3 separate regions of the Homo sapiens genome follow, and regions 1 and 3 are each linked to region 2. Evidence: fine-mapped expression QTL. A gene starts in region 2. Each other region holds a variant in brackets. All regions are shown on one strand. Distances are from middle to middle. Region 1 overlaps OSBPL5 (oxysterol binding protein like 5). Region 2 holds the start of OSBPL5 (oxysterol binding protein like 5). Region 3 overlaps OSBPL5 (oxysterol binding protein like 5).

The links. PIP is the estimated chance that this variant, and not a neighbour inherited with it, causes the effect. A credible set is the group of variants that fine-mapping cannot tell apart.
Region 1: its variant is the best candidate, but not a certain one, in a credible set for the expression of OSBPL5 in whole blood (TOPMed, PIP 0.52).
Region 3: its variant is the best candidate, but not a certain one, in a credible set for the expression of OSBPL5 in whole blood (INTERVAL, PIP 0.84).

What each region holds. Positions count from the first base shown.
Region 1 is chr11:3,135,822-3,141,040 of GRCh38, forward strand. The region is part of intron 1 of OSBPL5 (oxysterol binding protein like 5); the gene reads right to left. Among named protein-coding and RNA genes, the nearest start is that of OSBPL5, 27 kb to the right of the region's middle. RefSeq lists enhancers at 1-502, 503-1,110. The variant A/G (reference allele first, on the strand shown) is at 1,969.
Region 2 is chr11:3,162,367-3,167,585 of GRCh38, forward strand. OSBPL5 (oxysterol binding protein like 5) reads right to left here and starts at 2,944. Exons shown (of 22, transcript NM_020896.4): 1 at 2,850-2,944. RefSeq lists enhancers at 989-1,682, 3,426-4,138.
Region 3 is chr11:3,109,934-3,115,152 of GRCh38, forward strand. The region is part of intron 7 of OSBPL5 (oxysterol binding protein like 5); the gene reads right to left. Among named protein-coding and RNA genes, the nearest start is that of OSBPL5, 53 kb to the right of the region's middle. RefSeq lists a silencer at 242-301. The variant T/C (reference allele first, on the strand shown) is at 2,189.

The DNA of each region.
Region 1 (5,219 bases), 27 kb before region 2:
GCTCCCACTTCCTCCTGCCCTGCTGAGTTTCCTGGGCCACCTAGGAGTTGCGGAGGGGACAGAGGCGAGGGCACAGGAAGGGAGTGAGCTCTGACTCTGGGCTGACCACCCCTCCCCAACCCCCACTGCATAGGCTGGAGCAGGCTCTTCCTTCCATTTCTCATGTGGGGCATGAAAGACCCCTTCCACCACTGGGAGACAAGAGGTCCCATGTGGTGCCAGCCCAGAGCAGATGGGGAGGGACAGGTCAGGTTCTGCCTCTGCCTGGCCAGCCCTGTGTCCCTGAGGATGCTTGCCTCTGGACACCTGGGGAGGGGCCATGCTCTCTGACCCCACGCCAAGGCCAGCTGTTTGGCAGCATGGGGCCCAGGCCCAATGGGGGCCCCACCCAGAGCCAGTGCACATGGCCCCCCTGCCTCCGCCAGCTGCCTTCCCAGCAGTAATCCAGCCTCCAAAGTGCTCCTTACCCCCTGCCTCCCAGACGCTCGCCTTCAGGCTAGGATAAAGGGATTCTTGTAAAGAAAGGTCACTGGCGCCTCCTCAGGCCACATAGAGCCATCAGCTGGGGCCACACTTAGCTGAACCTTGGCCAGGGGCAGACACTGCCTCAGCTCTGGGAAAGGCTGAAGCTCTGAGAAGGAATCCAGCTGAGTCCTGGACTCATTCCGCATCCTTCCTGTGCCCAATTCCTCCTCTGTCCTCCTGCAGAGGCCTGGGGACCGCAGAGCTGGGGAAAAGGGCCCAGCCATGACTCCAGTGGTTGTGTGGCCTCAGCTGGCCACCTTCATCTCTCAGGCCCTGTTTGTAAATCAGGACTTGCTCTGAGTCAGGGAGATGATGTCCCAGGCCCACAGGAGGCCCTGGGGAAGGCGCCTGCAGAGGTGAGTGTGAGCCCAGACCCAGCCCCCTCCACGCCTATGTGGCTTCCTCACCCACAGCCCAGAGTGACAGGGCTGGGCCGCGCTGCATGGGGGCAGAGAGGAGGCTCTGGCCACTGGGGTGCTCCATCAATTGGCAGGGGCCAGAAAAGCAGGAACTCCGCAGCCAGCCTTCAGCAGTAACATCCGGCACAGATGCTTCTGCCTAAACCAGATAGATTCTCGTTCAAGACTGTGGAGGGGAAATGCTCTAAAATCACAAGGATAAAGGAACATAAGCCCAAATGCTTGGCTCTTCGCACATGGGATGGAGAGGTCAGTGGGTCCCAAGGAAGGACAGCAGCCATCAGTTAAAGGACAGCAGCCATCATGTCAACACCATACGTTTGCATTCCAGAAACTTGCTAAGGTCAATGCAAGTGACCATGAAGATCCTGCTGTGAGGAAACCACGCAGGCCTCCTGAGTCACCCCAGGGAGACCACCACAGCAACAGATGCACTCCCTGAGAGCAGACAGCAGCATAAGAGACCAGGCTGCTGTGTCTGGGTGGACCGAATGCCTAGTGCTAATGTGGGCAGCCTGACCACCCCTGCAGGAGCAGCAGCCTCTTCAGAGAGCCGTGGCATGCACTTCAGCTGTGGCAGCTGGGCCCTGGGGGGCTTGGGACATGCGCTTTCCCAGGACATCTGCTGCACTGATGGACCTTAAAGCCCCCAGGTCCTCCTGGATGTTCTGTCCCATCTGATATGATTCTCGGAATGCTCGCAAGGTGCGGGGAGCAGGGGAGCAGGGGTCATCATCACATTTTAAAGATGCAGTGGGCCGGGTGTACTGCACCTGGGATTACAAGCCTGTAATCCCAACACTTTGGGAGCCTGAGGCGGGTGGATCGCTTGAGCCTAGGAGATCGAGATCAGCCTGGGCAACATAGCGAGACCCTGTCTCTACAAACATAAAAACAGCCGGTTGTGGTGGCACATGCCTGTGGTCCCAGTTACTCAGGAGGCTGAGGTGGGAGGATTGCTTGAGCCTGGGAGGTCGAGGCTGCTATGAGCCATGGTCATGCCACTGCACTCAGCCTGGGTGAC[A/G]AAGTGACACCCTCATCACACACAAACACACTGGGACCCCAAGAGGGGAAACGGCCCATCTAAGGTCTCGTGGGCCAGGCTGCGCCTGGGATCCCCTCAAAGGAGCACAGCTGAAGCCCCAAATCCCCTTTGCACTTTGGAGATAGCTGTGGAGCTGAGGGGGAGGCCAGGCCTCCCTCTGGGGAGACATTTATCAGAGGCAGCTGTGGAGTGGTTGAACCTCAAGAGGGGCACAGGAAGTGGCCTGCACTGCTGAGGACGCAGCATCGAGCCATGCCTGCGTGTTCTCCGGGCTGCCTCAGCCAAGTCCTGTGCCTGTGGGCCCGGCCAGGCCAGCCCGTCCCCGGCCCTGTCCACCTGTCCTCCTGATGGACACCAGGCCCACTGAAGGCTCAGAGCAGCTACTGGGTCAGCTGGCCTTGGTACCCCGACCCCACACCCCTGTAGTCGATCACTCCACCAGCCCTAAGAAGCCCTGGCATGGGGGCGGGCTGGGCGTGGTCCCTGAGGCAGGCCTGGCCCCACCACCTCCCAGCTAGACCCACCACCTCCCAGCTAGACCCACCCCACCTGTCCCAACTGAAAGGAGACTCCGATTTTCAGATGCTAGCTGCAGCCAGGTGGCAGCAGGGGTCAGCCGGGGAGGGAGGGGTAAGGGAGTGGGGGCCGTCACTTGGAGGCAGTGCAGCTGGAGGCAGGGGCCTGCTGGGATTGTGGACGCAATCTCAAACCCGCCACGCTGAGCCTCAGCATTCACACTGGAAATAAGACATGAACCTGGGCCCCCAGTGGAGCCTGGACACTCACTTCCAGAAAAGACGCTCGCCTGCCGTGCTGTGGGGCTGGCCTCTGTCCTGAATGCCCTCAGGCACACCTGGGGCCTCTTCTGGGTGGTGCCAGTGCCCCCTTGCCTGGCCCTCCTGGTGAGGCTCCTGGGCTTGGTGTGCCACCCCCAGTGGACGGCCCTGCAGGCCGCTGCCTACCCAGGTGGGGGACCAAGGGAGAAGCAGCTGGGCTGTGGCCGCCTAGGGACACGCGGCTGAGAAGCTGAGCACGTGGCTGTGTCTCCTCATCTGGCCCCAGCCTGCTCATCCTCCTAATTCCAGGGCAGCCTGGAGCCAGGCGTGTGGGCAAAAACTCCAACAAGAAGACCAGAGCAAAACAAAGAGGACGCGGCTGCTGTGGGCCAAGACTGAGGTCCGTCTCCGCCCTCCAGGGGCACCTGAGCTCCAAGGGCAGGGACCGGGTGATGGGTCTTCGCTGACACCGAGTGGGGATCCTGGGGTGCGAGCAGGCCCACACTCTCCCCCAAAACCCTCCAGCCTCAGTCTCCCCCACTGCCCACCCACACACCACCACAGCTGTTCCCGTTCAGGGGACCCTGGGGTGACCATGAGGCAGTGGGCCTGAGAGCCAGGGAGGTGGAAGCTTCCAGCCCTGGAGGAGCAGGTGGCCACCGGCCAGCTGAGTGAGCGGAGACCAGGAGGCTGTGCGGGACGGGTGGCCCCGGGGCTGGGGCCGTGGCCAAGCCTGCTGGGGTCTGCCAGGGGCATCAGCTCTGAAGGTGCTGGCTGTGCTGTTGCCAGTGCTCTGTGGGGCCACGAGCAACCTGCCAGGATGATGGGGGAAGGAAGAGCCACCAGGCTGGGGCAGAGGTGGAGACAGACCCCAGTGATGGAGTTGAGCCCATTCTGGGAAAGGCAGGGAGGAGTGGCCTCCAGTGAGCTGGGGAAAGCCAGTGAGCAGGGGGCTTTAATCACCAGCCCAGGCACCCAGCCCTGCCCGCAGGAGTTTGGGGGCAGGATGGGGGTGGCAGGCCTTCCCCTGGCCTCTGGACAAGCCCCCGCCCCAGGGAGGCCTTGCTGCCTTGCTCTATGGGGAGGAGTCACTTCCAGAGGGCACATCCAGCCTCCCCTCCTCTCTCTCTGTCTCTCGGCTTCCCTCTCTGGGCTCCTGGACCCTGGGTCCAAGTGCTGCTTCCCCCGGCCTCTCTTCCTTCAGGCAGCCAGCCTTCCCTGCTGGAGTCCCCGAGGCCCAGCCACGCGCCCTGAAGGAGCACAAGCTCCTAGGGTGCGTTTACTCGCAGAGGCTGAAGCTGGTGGTGGGGTGGGGCGCTCACAGCCTGGCCTGTGGTTGGCCAAGGACACCAACAGGAGCTCTTCCCTGCAGCTCCTGGCAGGCCTGCAGAGGTGCCCCCCCTGCTCTGAGAAGCCAGCCTCACAAGATCATTCATCGCAAGCTCTGGGCCCACTGCTCGGCTGTGCAGCCTGGGAGGGGGGTGTGCAGTGGTCCGCCAAGCAGCACCTCTGCCAAGGAGCTCCCTCTGCAGAGGAGAACCCGGCCAAGGTCCCCCAAATTGCAGCCACCATCTCGGGCTGTATTAACAGAGGTTGAGTCCTCAGAAGGAGGGAGGGGATAATTGCAGTGGTGTCTCCCTGGCCAGGCTGCTGAGTTCAGCTCTGGAAGGGGCAGCCCACAGCAATGCTCTCTGTGAAGGGCCAGCATGGTGCCACCCAGGAGTGACACACACAGCCAAGCTCTCCCCTGTATCCCTCAGGTGCTGGACAGGCAGGGTAGGGCTCACAGCCAAGCTAGGACACCCTTCCCAGGGCCAAGGCAGCCCAGGAAAAGCCAGCACAGCGTGTCCTCCTGAGAGGCCTGTGTGGACACTCAGGGGTCCCAGTCTGAGGGGGAACACAAGGCCTTGACCTGGTAGCCCACTTTCAACACTCCGTGAGCACGCAGGGCCTCCCCCAGCAGAGAGGGGCACCGAGGGAAGCCAGGACCCCAGGCAGTGCCCTCTGTCCACCCAAGTACATGCTGCCCCACCAGTGGACAGGCATCGTCGTCCCGGCTCCCCTCTGTCCCCCAGCTCACATTACCCAGGACTGGCTGTAGGAGCCTTGTTTCCAAGACCAGAGAGGTCATAAGGTCACCTGCTGCCCACACGTCCCATCCTAGTCCTCCTTGGGGTATGTGGGTACCTGGGGCGGCCCCTCATGTCCAGGAGCTGAGGCTGCCCCTGGGTGTATCAAGGTGAGGTGCCTACCCCACCCCTACCCGCCCATGCAGAGCTGCAGCTGGTGCTCTGGTCAGCCCATGGGTGTGACAGCCCAGGGGGCCCTGGGGCCAGGTGACCACCTCAGAGCCACTCCTTCCCCGATGCCATCTGTCAAGGGTCAGGGGTCACACACTGCAGAGAAGAAGACACAAAGCCTGGCAGGTAGGACCCTGGGGGCACCAACTTGGGT
Region 2 (5,219 bases):
TCCCTCTAAGCCAGCCAAGAAGGCTCATGTCCCACCCCCTCCCCATCTCCCACCTCAAGCCCTGGTCCTGAGGACACAGCTGGTGCCCACTCCGCTTAGTGTAGATGCCAGCACAAGGCAATCTCACATCCTCGTGGACATGATCCCAGAGGCCCTGGCTCAGAACAACTGTGATGCTAAGAGAACAACGCGGTCCTTAGTCCAAGTCCTTTGTACTCGACCGCCAACCCTACCACTCTCCGGAGCAGCTTCACTATCTGCCCATACATCTCCACGGGAAAGGTTACCCAGCCGTGGCCAAGACCCAGCCACCAAGGCCCCAAAACCTTTAAAAATCTTGACCAGCCCAGGAGCCCCATCCTCAGGCTGTCAGTTGCCTCCTCAAGCTGCAGGCTCGGTAAGTCATCAAGCAAAGCTGGCATCGAGAACAATATTCTTTTCCTTTGTGCCGGTCACAAGCAGCATGAGGACATCCAGGGCAGCATGCCTGTCCCTGTCGGGAGGCCAGTGGCCCTCACTTGTACCCCCCAACATCTACCCCCCAGCACACTGGTGCACTCCCTGGGCTCCCCTGCCAACCCTGCAAGTGGTGGGCACTTCTACCCACCTGGCCCTTGGACTCCACAAGGGGAGCTGCACCTAACGGCTCCCTCCCCGACAGCTCCCTTCCTGTCAAAATGACCGGGATCCTTTTGGCACTGTGCAACCCTGGGCCTCGGCCCCTCTACAACCCCCTGTCCCGGAGGTCAGAGCTTCCAGCTCCCCAGGCCTCTCCGGGAGAACCCTGAGCTGGGTCCACAACATTTCTCAGCTGCGGTCACAGGCTCAGATTCACCTGTCCCTTGAACAATAAATGGGAATGGGGGCGGGGGGCACCTTCTGTCATCTTGGGTAAGTTTTCCACCTGCACACTGTGCCTGTATGTGTGCAAACGTGTGCAGGCTTAACCACAGAATCAGCAGAGAGCACCAGTCCCCAAAACACAGCTGGCAGAGACACACACAGCCCTTCCACCCGCCGGCTTGTCACAGAGTGTTTCTCCCTCCCCCAAGCGTTACATGTCAGATTACTATCAGCGCTCAGAGTGAGGCCAGGATCTCAGGAGAGAAACTGATACCAGGCATTCTCAGCATAGTAAATACAATCCTGGGTAGGGGTTGGGTGGGGGGGGCGGTCTTGCGTTGGTATTCTGTAAAGAGCTGAAAGCAGTCCTTTGAAGAACATGGCCTATTCATGGCCCAATCTGGACCCAGAAAGGAGCCTCCACTGGACATGCAGGATGGCTGCCCGGGGTTCGACATCTGCAGGGCAGCCTCTCTGAGACCAGGCCCAGGACTGCAGGTCAGAGGCTCCTCATCCGGCCTATCTGCTGTGTCACCTTTCTTAAACACAGCCTGGCAAGACAGACACACGCGGTGCCTGCCTCCTGGCACCCCAGGCCAGCCCCACACGCGTGCAGGCAGACAATAGGATCTGCAGTTCTGGAGCCTGAGACCAGAAGGGAGCAGCTGGGCACATGATGCCACCCCAGGTTGCCACAAACCTGCCCGATGCCTGCAAAGCCCCCACTCACCTGGCAGGTTCAAGGAACAGCAAGGCCCTGTGTACCAAGGAGGTGGGATAAAAACGTGCAGAGGGGCCTTACTCCTGGGGTTGGGGAGCAGAGTTTCTGTTCAGTCTGGGATCTGGATCAGCCCTGGTGCAGGCAGACCCAAGAGCATCTATCTAGGATCCCAAAGGCTGGCCCACTTCTCCAGGCTTTGGGAGGCTGTATCAGGTGGGGTGGGACCCTTACAGAAGTCTTCCTGTAAAAGGCACCTTGAAGAGACTGGGGCAGACACACAGAGGGGAGCAAGTTGCGAAACGGCAAGAGAGGAAATCCACCCAGCCGCTTCGGCGGGGCAGACCCGCTCAGCCCAAGGATGAGGGAGGGGCTGGGCTCAGCCCAGGGACGAGGGAGGGGCAGGTAAGCCCACCCTGTGACCCCTCCATACCCCCAGGAGTCACCCCAAACCCTAACTCCAGTTGGCTTCTGACAGGAGGCAGCCCAGCGGTCTGGGTGGGGGTTGGGGGCGGTGCCTGGGAAGCCCAGGACGGGCCTGTTGCCCGGGGGGCTGCAGACTCCAGCCTCCTTCCTGCCTGCCCCACCCTCCTGCACCCCGCTCCCCGGGAGGAATCTTCAAGTGCACAAGACCCTCTTGAGGACTCAGGCACCTCAACAATCCCTAAGGCTCCACATCTTCAGGGGGTCAGTGCCCCAGAGATGGGGGCTGTGGGCAAGGTCCTTCCCTAGCCTGTAATCCAGGCAGCCCCCTGACTCTGCGGACTCAGACACAGCAGTCCTCCCAAGCCCGCAGCTGGGACGCCAGACTCAGATCCCAGACCCCCTGCAGACCCATCAAGACCTGGCTCCTTGGAGCCCGCGTCGGCCGAGCTGGGGGGACAGACCCCCTGATTGGCCAGGGTTTGTGGTGGTCAGACCCAGCCACCTTCCCTGGCGGTCCCGGCTCCTTTAAGCCCCACCAAGTGGGGAGCCGAGCTGGGCGCGCCGCTTCCCACTCGCGGGCCCCACCCGCCCCAACCCGCCAGGCGCCGACCCGTCCTGGCCCGGGGCGCCCCCAGGCTCCCGCGCTCCCCAGCTCCCCAGCGCGCGACCGGCCCCGCGGCGTGGTTCCCCGCACTGGCTACTGCCAGGGTCCGCGGGGCTGCGGCGCGAGCTCCTGGATCCCTTCGGCCGGCCCCCCGCGGCCCTCGGTTCGCTCCGGCCCTGCCCGGCGGGGCCCTCCGGATCCTTCCCAGCCCGCCATCCCCCCGCCGCCCTGCCGCCCCCCGGGCCGCCGCGCTCCTACCTCCTACCGTGCCGCGAGCTCGGTGCTCCGGGCCGGCCGGGCGCGCGGGGGCTCCACTGGCGGCGCGGGCCTGGCTGCAGGAAATGCCAGCAGATGGTCCCCCCGCGCGAGGCGGAGCGAGGGCGCGGCGGAGGGAGGAGGCCCAGGGAGCCCGGAGGCGGGAGGAGGAGGCGCGGCGGCCGCAAAACCCGGGCCGAATCGCCGCGCGGAGCGGGCGCCCAGGGGCTGCCCCCCACCGGCTGCCGCTTCTCCTCATCCCCCAACCCCCCGCGCGCGCTCCGGGGCTCACACCCACCCGGGCGGCCAGAGGTCGGGACACTCCGCTGAAAATGGCCAGGAGGCTTGGCGGGGTGGGCAGCGGTGAGTGGGGTCAGCTTCGTGGGGTTCTCCAACTTAGGGGTGCAGGCCCCCAGCCCACCCTAGCCAGGGTGCGAGGCGCCTCCTCTCCCTTCCTGAACCCAGGAAACTGTCGCCGTTTCTCCCCGTCTCAGGAGCCATCAGAACACAAGAGGAGCCCCAGACATCTGAGCCCGTTGTCCCTGCCCCTTATGTGCTAAGAAGGACCCTCAGTCACACTCTAACTGTACGTCTTTCTCAGGACCCTTTTGACAAGAACCTCCCCTCATGTGCATTTCTTCCTGTGTTTTCTCCTCACCTTCTTCTACCCCCCAGAGACCTTTTTAGACCCCTCAGTTCTCTTGTATATAAAAGACATTCTAATTCCCCTAAACAGCATCCCCTTGGGAGCTGAGAAGTCCTCCCCTGGCCCCTGGCTCCCTGCCTGTAGACCCTAAATTGGGTGTGGGCCCAGGGCTGGCCCCAGGGCGTTTGCATCCCTAGTGTCCAAGCCTGAGGTGCACTGCAGGTCCTTCCTATGGTATGTCCCCAAATGACCAGAAAAACTGGGAGCTGGGCTCGGGCATCCCCAGATGTAGGTAGACCCCAAGAGGGCGTGGAGTCTTTTCCACACAGAACCTTAACAGGGACAGAACTGACCCTCCGCAGAGAGCCCTGGGCTCCTCCCCAGGCAGAACTGCCACTGACACGTGTGTTTCTACGGTTTCACGCTGCAGTTGCATTCGGGAGGCCGCAAGCCTGGCTATCATGGGCGTCTGCAAGACCTCCCAGCAGGGCTGCGGAGGGCGAGCGGCCCAGGAAGGCTCCTTCCAGCACCTGAAGGGGGAACGGCACAGCATGCAGGTGCTCTGCCCACAACAAGCCAGACCCCTTCCCGTCTCAGCCCTGGCCTTGCCCACCCCGTTAGACAAGTTGGTGGGTATCCTCCTGGGGATAGCAGCACCAGCCGCTTGTGTGCGGATCACAGGAACCCACGGCTTACGGAGGCGAGTGGGCTGATCGGACTTGCCCTAAGCTTACCCCCAGGGCTAGCATTGCCATTCCATAGTCACCTTGTGAGGCCTTGGGATGCAGAACTGCTCAGTCAAGATGCTCAGGGCCATGGTGGGACCCTGCTCCGCGTGGCCTGTGGCAGGCGGCCTCTGCCTCTGCAGGAGAGGGTCTGTGCAGCTGGGATCCACATACAACTGCTGGGTCTGCTCTTTGAAGACTCCGCCCAAAGCTGAGGTGCTGCTGCCTGGTAACTTGCTGGTTGCTGGAGCCAATCCAAAGGGAATTAGGGAAGAAAACAAAGCCCCTATCCCTAGGGCGGAGGTCTCAGGGGCGGCAGTAGGGAAGGTTGCCAGTTGCTTGATGCTGGCTGTCCAGGGCCTGGGTTTCATGAAATGACACTGCTGAGGGCAGAGGTCAAAAGTCAAAGAGGCACCTGAGGGTGGGGGAAGGGGCCATAGATGACAGCAGGGTGGGGCTGGGGTGGAGCAGGACGAGGGTTGAGCCTCTCACTGGGTAGTGTCTGACAGCCAGATGGCCATGCAAGAAATGAAGAACACGCCACCTGCCAGGCTCAGTGACAGGTGTCAGTTGTCTGCCCCACTTCCCAGCAGGCTCTGCATTTTTCCAGAAAGCCCCATTTCCAGCCTCTTGCCTGGTTTTGGAGAGGCAGTGAGCCGAAGAGGTTGCCCCCAGCAAGAGGTAGGTCCGAATCCTGCTGCTGCCAGAAAGAAGCTCTGTCACCAGGCAGTGGCTTGTTCCTCCTGGGACCCCGCTTCCTCTCCTGTCAGATGGACACAGCATCTGTGCCTGGTGGCCAACGCAGGAAATGAAGGCGTCAGAGGTCTCAGAGATGGGCAGAGCCAGGTGCCAATGGCACCAGCTTTAGGGGGGCACGCCCAGTAGGCCCCACCATCCAGGAGCCCTTGAGCAGGTTTGTGCAACTGGCCGTGCCTCAGTTTCCTCATCTATAAATGGCGATGACCAGAGCAGTTTCCGCTGCATGAGCTGCCATAAGTCCCC
Region 3 (5,219 bases), 52 kb before region 2:
GGCCCACACCCTATCAGGGGCTCAGCTCACACCTCAGCCCAACCTGCCTTATCTGATGGTTGGTTATCCACCTCACCCAGGAGCACAGAGGCTGTGGGCTGCCCTGGCCATCCCCGGGCCTGCATGGGACCTGGCACATAGTGGGGCACTCAGGATGGCCCAGGAAGGAGCATGGATGTGGCATCTGACCACCAGGGGTGATGTGGCACCGAGACTCCAACCTGAGAGGCACCGGAGCCCCGTGGTCAAGGCCAGACTGCTTTAGGTCTGCACCACCGGCGGGATGGGAGCCCTTCACCCCACTGCTCTGGGAGGCATCACCCTGGGGTTAGAGGAGGTGGAGCAACCGCATTTACCCAGAGCAGCCACTGGAGGGCGAGGTGGGGTAGGGCCCCAACCTCAGGTTAGAGGGAGGAACGGCCAAGAGGGAATCCCTCCAGGTGGAGGATCATCGCAGTCACAGCTGCCTGAGCGGCCACTCAGGGAACAGCAACAGCGTGCAATGCATTTGGGAGTCAGGGAAATTCTCGTTCTAGCACTTTCTTGCTGGCAGTTTGCCTGTGCCTCAGTTTCCTGACCTGTCTAATGTGGATGATAACAGTAGAACCTGTTGTTTCAATGGTGCCTGGTGTGAAAGGAAAATCTTGGGCCCCTCAAATCACTAAGCTAAAGGGAAAAACCCAAGCTGGGAACTGCTTAGGGCCAACCTGCCTCCCATTCTATTCCAAGTCACCCCTCTGCTCACTGAGATAAATGCATATCTCATTGTCTCCTTTGGAGAAGCTCATCAGAAACTCAAAAAAATGCAACCATCTTTCTCTTATCTACCTATGACCTGGAAGCCCCTCCCCGCTTGAAGTTGTCCCGCCTTTCCAGACCAAACCAATGTTCATCTTACATATGTTGGTTAATGTCTCATGTCTCCCTAAAACCAAACTGTGCTCTGACCACCCTGGGCACATCGTCAGGACCTCCTGAGGCTGTGTCACAGGTAGGCGTCTTCAACCTTGGCAAAATAAACTTTCTAAATTAACTGAGACCTGTCTCAGATTTTCAGGGTTCAAACATTTTGGTAACCACTGAAGGATTCTGAGTGGAGATGCCCCTGACTTTTCACAAGTCTCCTATTGGTGCTTGGTACCAGCTTGAGCTAACTTTATGGCTCAAACCAATAAGACAATTTGCTGAGGCCTGGAAGCACCTCCCCCCGTGCCCCACCCCCACCCCCTGCCACAGAGAATCCCTGATCTCTCAAAATTTGGTCGAGATCTAAAGTTTATTTTGTTTTACAACTTCTCTTTTTGGAGTTTTACTTGCTTCCGATACAAGGAAGGCAAGTTTTCCCTGCTTCCATGACGATGGAAGGCAGGTAACTCCTTTATGGAGTTCGAGCTTGCTTCCAACAGGGAAGATGAATTTTTTTTTTTTCCTGCTCCCAGGATGGTGGAGATCTGAGTTTTCAGCCTGAGACCCATCCCTAGGGAAGTAACTGAATTGTGGTTTGTCTTAGCTAAAGTTAAGATTAACAACCAGCTGGTCTTAATTTCTCCTTACCATTAGAGCACTCAGTGATCACGTAAGTTGTGCGATTGTTTGTTTCGCTTAACTGTTTTTTTGTTGTTGATTGTTTCTGTTTTTGTTGTTTTGGTCTTTTTCCCATTGACCTCTATCTGGCTTGATCAAATCTGAAGGAAGTTCCAAATTATGGGGAACAAGGCCTCTGAAGTGGCTGAATTCCCCTCCCCACCCCCACACACAATGGTGGCGTGATGGGGGGAGAAAAACGGCCAGCAAAAGGAAAAAAAAAAGAGGAAAGATTTTGATTTTGACTACTAAGGGGCTTTATTCATATAACAAGGCCACATTTTCACTAGCTAGGCCAAACTGAAAGAGTAATGACTGTACTTCTGTGTCCTCGTTGAAATTTGTCCTAGTTGAAATATGGAATGAGATTTAAAAAGATTTTTTCAAAGAAGCTCAATGGTTAAAAGTCAGTTTAATGAAAAGCTAACATCCAAGCTGTGTGTGTGTGTGTGCATATGTGTGCGCGCATGTGTGTGCATGTGTGTGTGTGTGCGCGCATGTGTGTGCATGTGTGTGTATGTGTGCGCGCATGTGTGTGCATGTGTATGTGTGTGTGCATGTGTGTGTGCATGTGTGTGTGCATATGTGTGTGTGCATGTGTGTG[T/C]GTGCGCATATGTGTGTGTTTGTATTTAAGAGACCTTCATGTTTCTGTTTTTGTTTTTCTCCTAGGACCTTGTCTTTTTTTGAGCAAAAGGGTTTTTTCTTCTCAGTTGACTGAATTCTGTTTCTTGATTTACTTCTGCTGTCTCTCCTTTCTCTTGCACCTTCTGCCGCATGGGGGACCTAAAATAGTTTATAGTAGCCTGGGGTTCCTTAAAGAAAATGGAGAGGGTGCCAGACTCCCCTTGGGGGAGAAACTTGTTTTTTCTTATGAAACCCCAAGAATGTAAACAGACAAGTTTGTCTCAGCTCTTAAACTGCTTACTTTTGTATTGTGTAACCTGTTTTGTGTTTTCTTTTCTTTTTTTTTTTTTTTTTGACTAAAGTAGTTATTGCAACAGTGGTTACTCTTGGGCTTTTAAGGAAGAGTGTGGTTTAGACACTTAGAAATGTCTTTGTTTAAAAAAAATTTGTAAGTGCACTATAAAAGCATCACGTGGTCTAACCTCATGATAATTCTCCCTTTCTGGAGACCTAGGATTCAGTGTGGGCTCTTCCCAGAGCTCAGAGATCCAGTTAAATGATAGGTAGTCCCTACTACATAAAATTGGTCTCCTTATGCAATCCTATGATAGATTTCTATAATTTTGTTTGATTTGGCATCCATCTTTAGTCTCCCTCTAGCACCACCAGACTTTTTCTCTCTGTACCTTATGCAAATTTTGCTATTTGATTTTCACCTGAGTTGTTTCCCTTAATATGCAAATTTAAGGCTATTTAGCTGACAATTGCCTAGGGTTGTGAAACAGGTTATCAAGAATCTGAAAGTCTAAGACAGGAAAAAAAAATTTTTATAAACCTATGAGATGTACTTCTATTGCCATGCCTAATATGTCTATGTATTTATGTGTCGTGTACACAATGTTTCACTACTGAAAATATATAAAAGGGCTCTAATTGATTGGCTTAAGAAAGTAAATGCACTTGAATCAAATACTTGATCAGGAAAAAAGAAAAGACAAGTCAAATGCTTTTTCAAGTTTATGTAACTTAAATAAAATCTTTAATAAATAAGCTAGCTTTAAAATTATTGGTAAAGTAATATTAGAAATGTCTTAAGAATTGCCAGCATATATTTTTGTTTGCATTTATTAATCAAGCAATTTCATACTTATCCCTGCCAAATACCATGAGGTGTCAAAATTTGGCATAGGAGTTACGAAACTATAAACCCAGCCCAAGACAGAATGATCTTTGCTTGTGTAATCTTTAATAATGCCTGTAATCTCAGCACTTTGGGAGGCTGAGGTGGGTGGATCACAAAGTCAGGAGTTCAAGACCAGTCTGGCCAACATAGTGAAACCCCATCTCTACTAAAAATACAAAAATTAGCCAGGTGTGTTGGCAGGCACCTGTAATCCCAGCTACTCGTGAGGCTGAGGCAGGAGAATTGCTTGACCTGGGAGGCAGAGGTAACAGTGAGCCAAGATCGCACCACTGCACTCCAGCCTGGGAGACTAGAGCAAGACTCCGTCTCAAAAAAAAAAAAATTTATATTGGTTTAATAAAAATAGCTACATCTTAAATTTAGTAAGATTACCATAACTTCTAATCTGGTGGCTTTAGGTAGTCTAGTCCACAGGCAGTAAGGTTCATTTTGAGAAAGACTGTTATAGTCTTTGTTTCAGGTAAACTATAAACTAAGTTCCTCCCAAAGTTAGTTTGACCTATGCCCAGGAATGAACAAGGATAGCTTGAAGGTTAGAAACAAGATGGAGTCAGTTAGGTCAAATCTCTTTCACTGTCTCAGTTATAATTTTGCAATGGTGTTTCCATAATTTAAATAATGACAATTGCAGTTTTTATAAATAATCTAGGTAAATGATTAAAATAATTAGGTAAATGTAATAGGACAAATACTTGTAGACAAATTCATCATAATTTAGAATTTAAAGTTAGATTAAATAAGATATTTCACTATTTGGATATTTTCCAATAAAAATATATTTGTAGGAAAATATGCTTTCTAAAAGAAAGCATGTCCTTTTGAAAAAGGTGAACAATTTTTGCCTAATTCAAAGCTTATTTAAAGATCATGTATAAAACAAGGTAAAAGGAACCAGGAAATAAAAGAGTAAAAGAGATGTAAAGAAAGTTATAAAAAAGTGTTTTTTGGTGGAGAGTAAGAAAGCTTAAAGAGAAATAATTTCATATGAGAAAGAATCTTGTATGGTAAATTTAGTCCTAGAGTAAAATGACTGGTTGTTTAAGAAAGAGGGATGTTCAGGACAAACCAGAAAGTCCAAGCGTGGCATGAATGGTCTATGGAAGTCACAATAAGAGGATCTATTAAAAAAAAACCCTTTTATATGATCAAGTTGTCTATGACTAAAGGGAAATTATAATGGTCTTTCTAGAGATTGGGTTTGATGTAAAAAAACAGTTATAGACTAAAGAATTGGTTAGAACAATGATTTTTTTTTTTTTTTTTTTTTTTTTTAGACAGAGTCTCGCTCTGTTGCCCAGGCTGGAGTGCAGTGGCGTGATCTTGGCTCACTGCAAGCTCCACCTCCTGGGTTCACGCCATTCTCCTGCCCCAGCCTCCTGAGTAGCTGGGACTACAGGCGCCCGCCACCACGCCTGGCTAATTTTTTTTTGTATTTTTAGTAGAGATGGGGTTTCACCATGTTAGCCAGGATGGTCTTGATCTCCTGACTTCGTGATCCTCCTGCCTCGGCCTCCCAAAAGTGCTGGGATTACAGGCATGAGCCACCGCACCTGGCCGACATTTTCTTAAGAGGTTGATTTACTCTTAATCAATTATAAGATATTTTAATTTTTTAATTTTAACCCAAAGTTCAACTTTCATTGCATCTTGCCAGTTTCAGTTTTCTCTTCCCTCTTAAAAGGAACAAAATAGTAACACTTCCCTTCAACTCATTTTCAGCTCATATAAGTTTTGTTTTCCTCCTCAGGTTCTGTTTTTTTGTGTGTGTGTGGCCTGATGCTAACAATGTTTTCTTAAAGAAAATGTT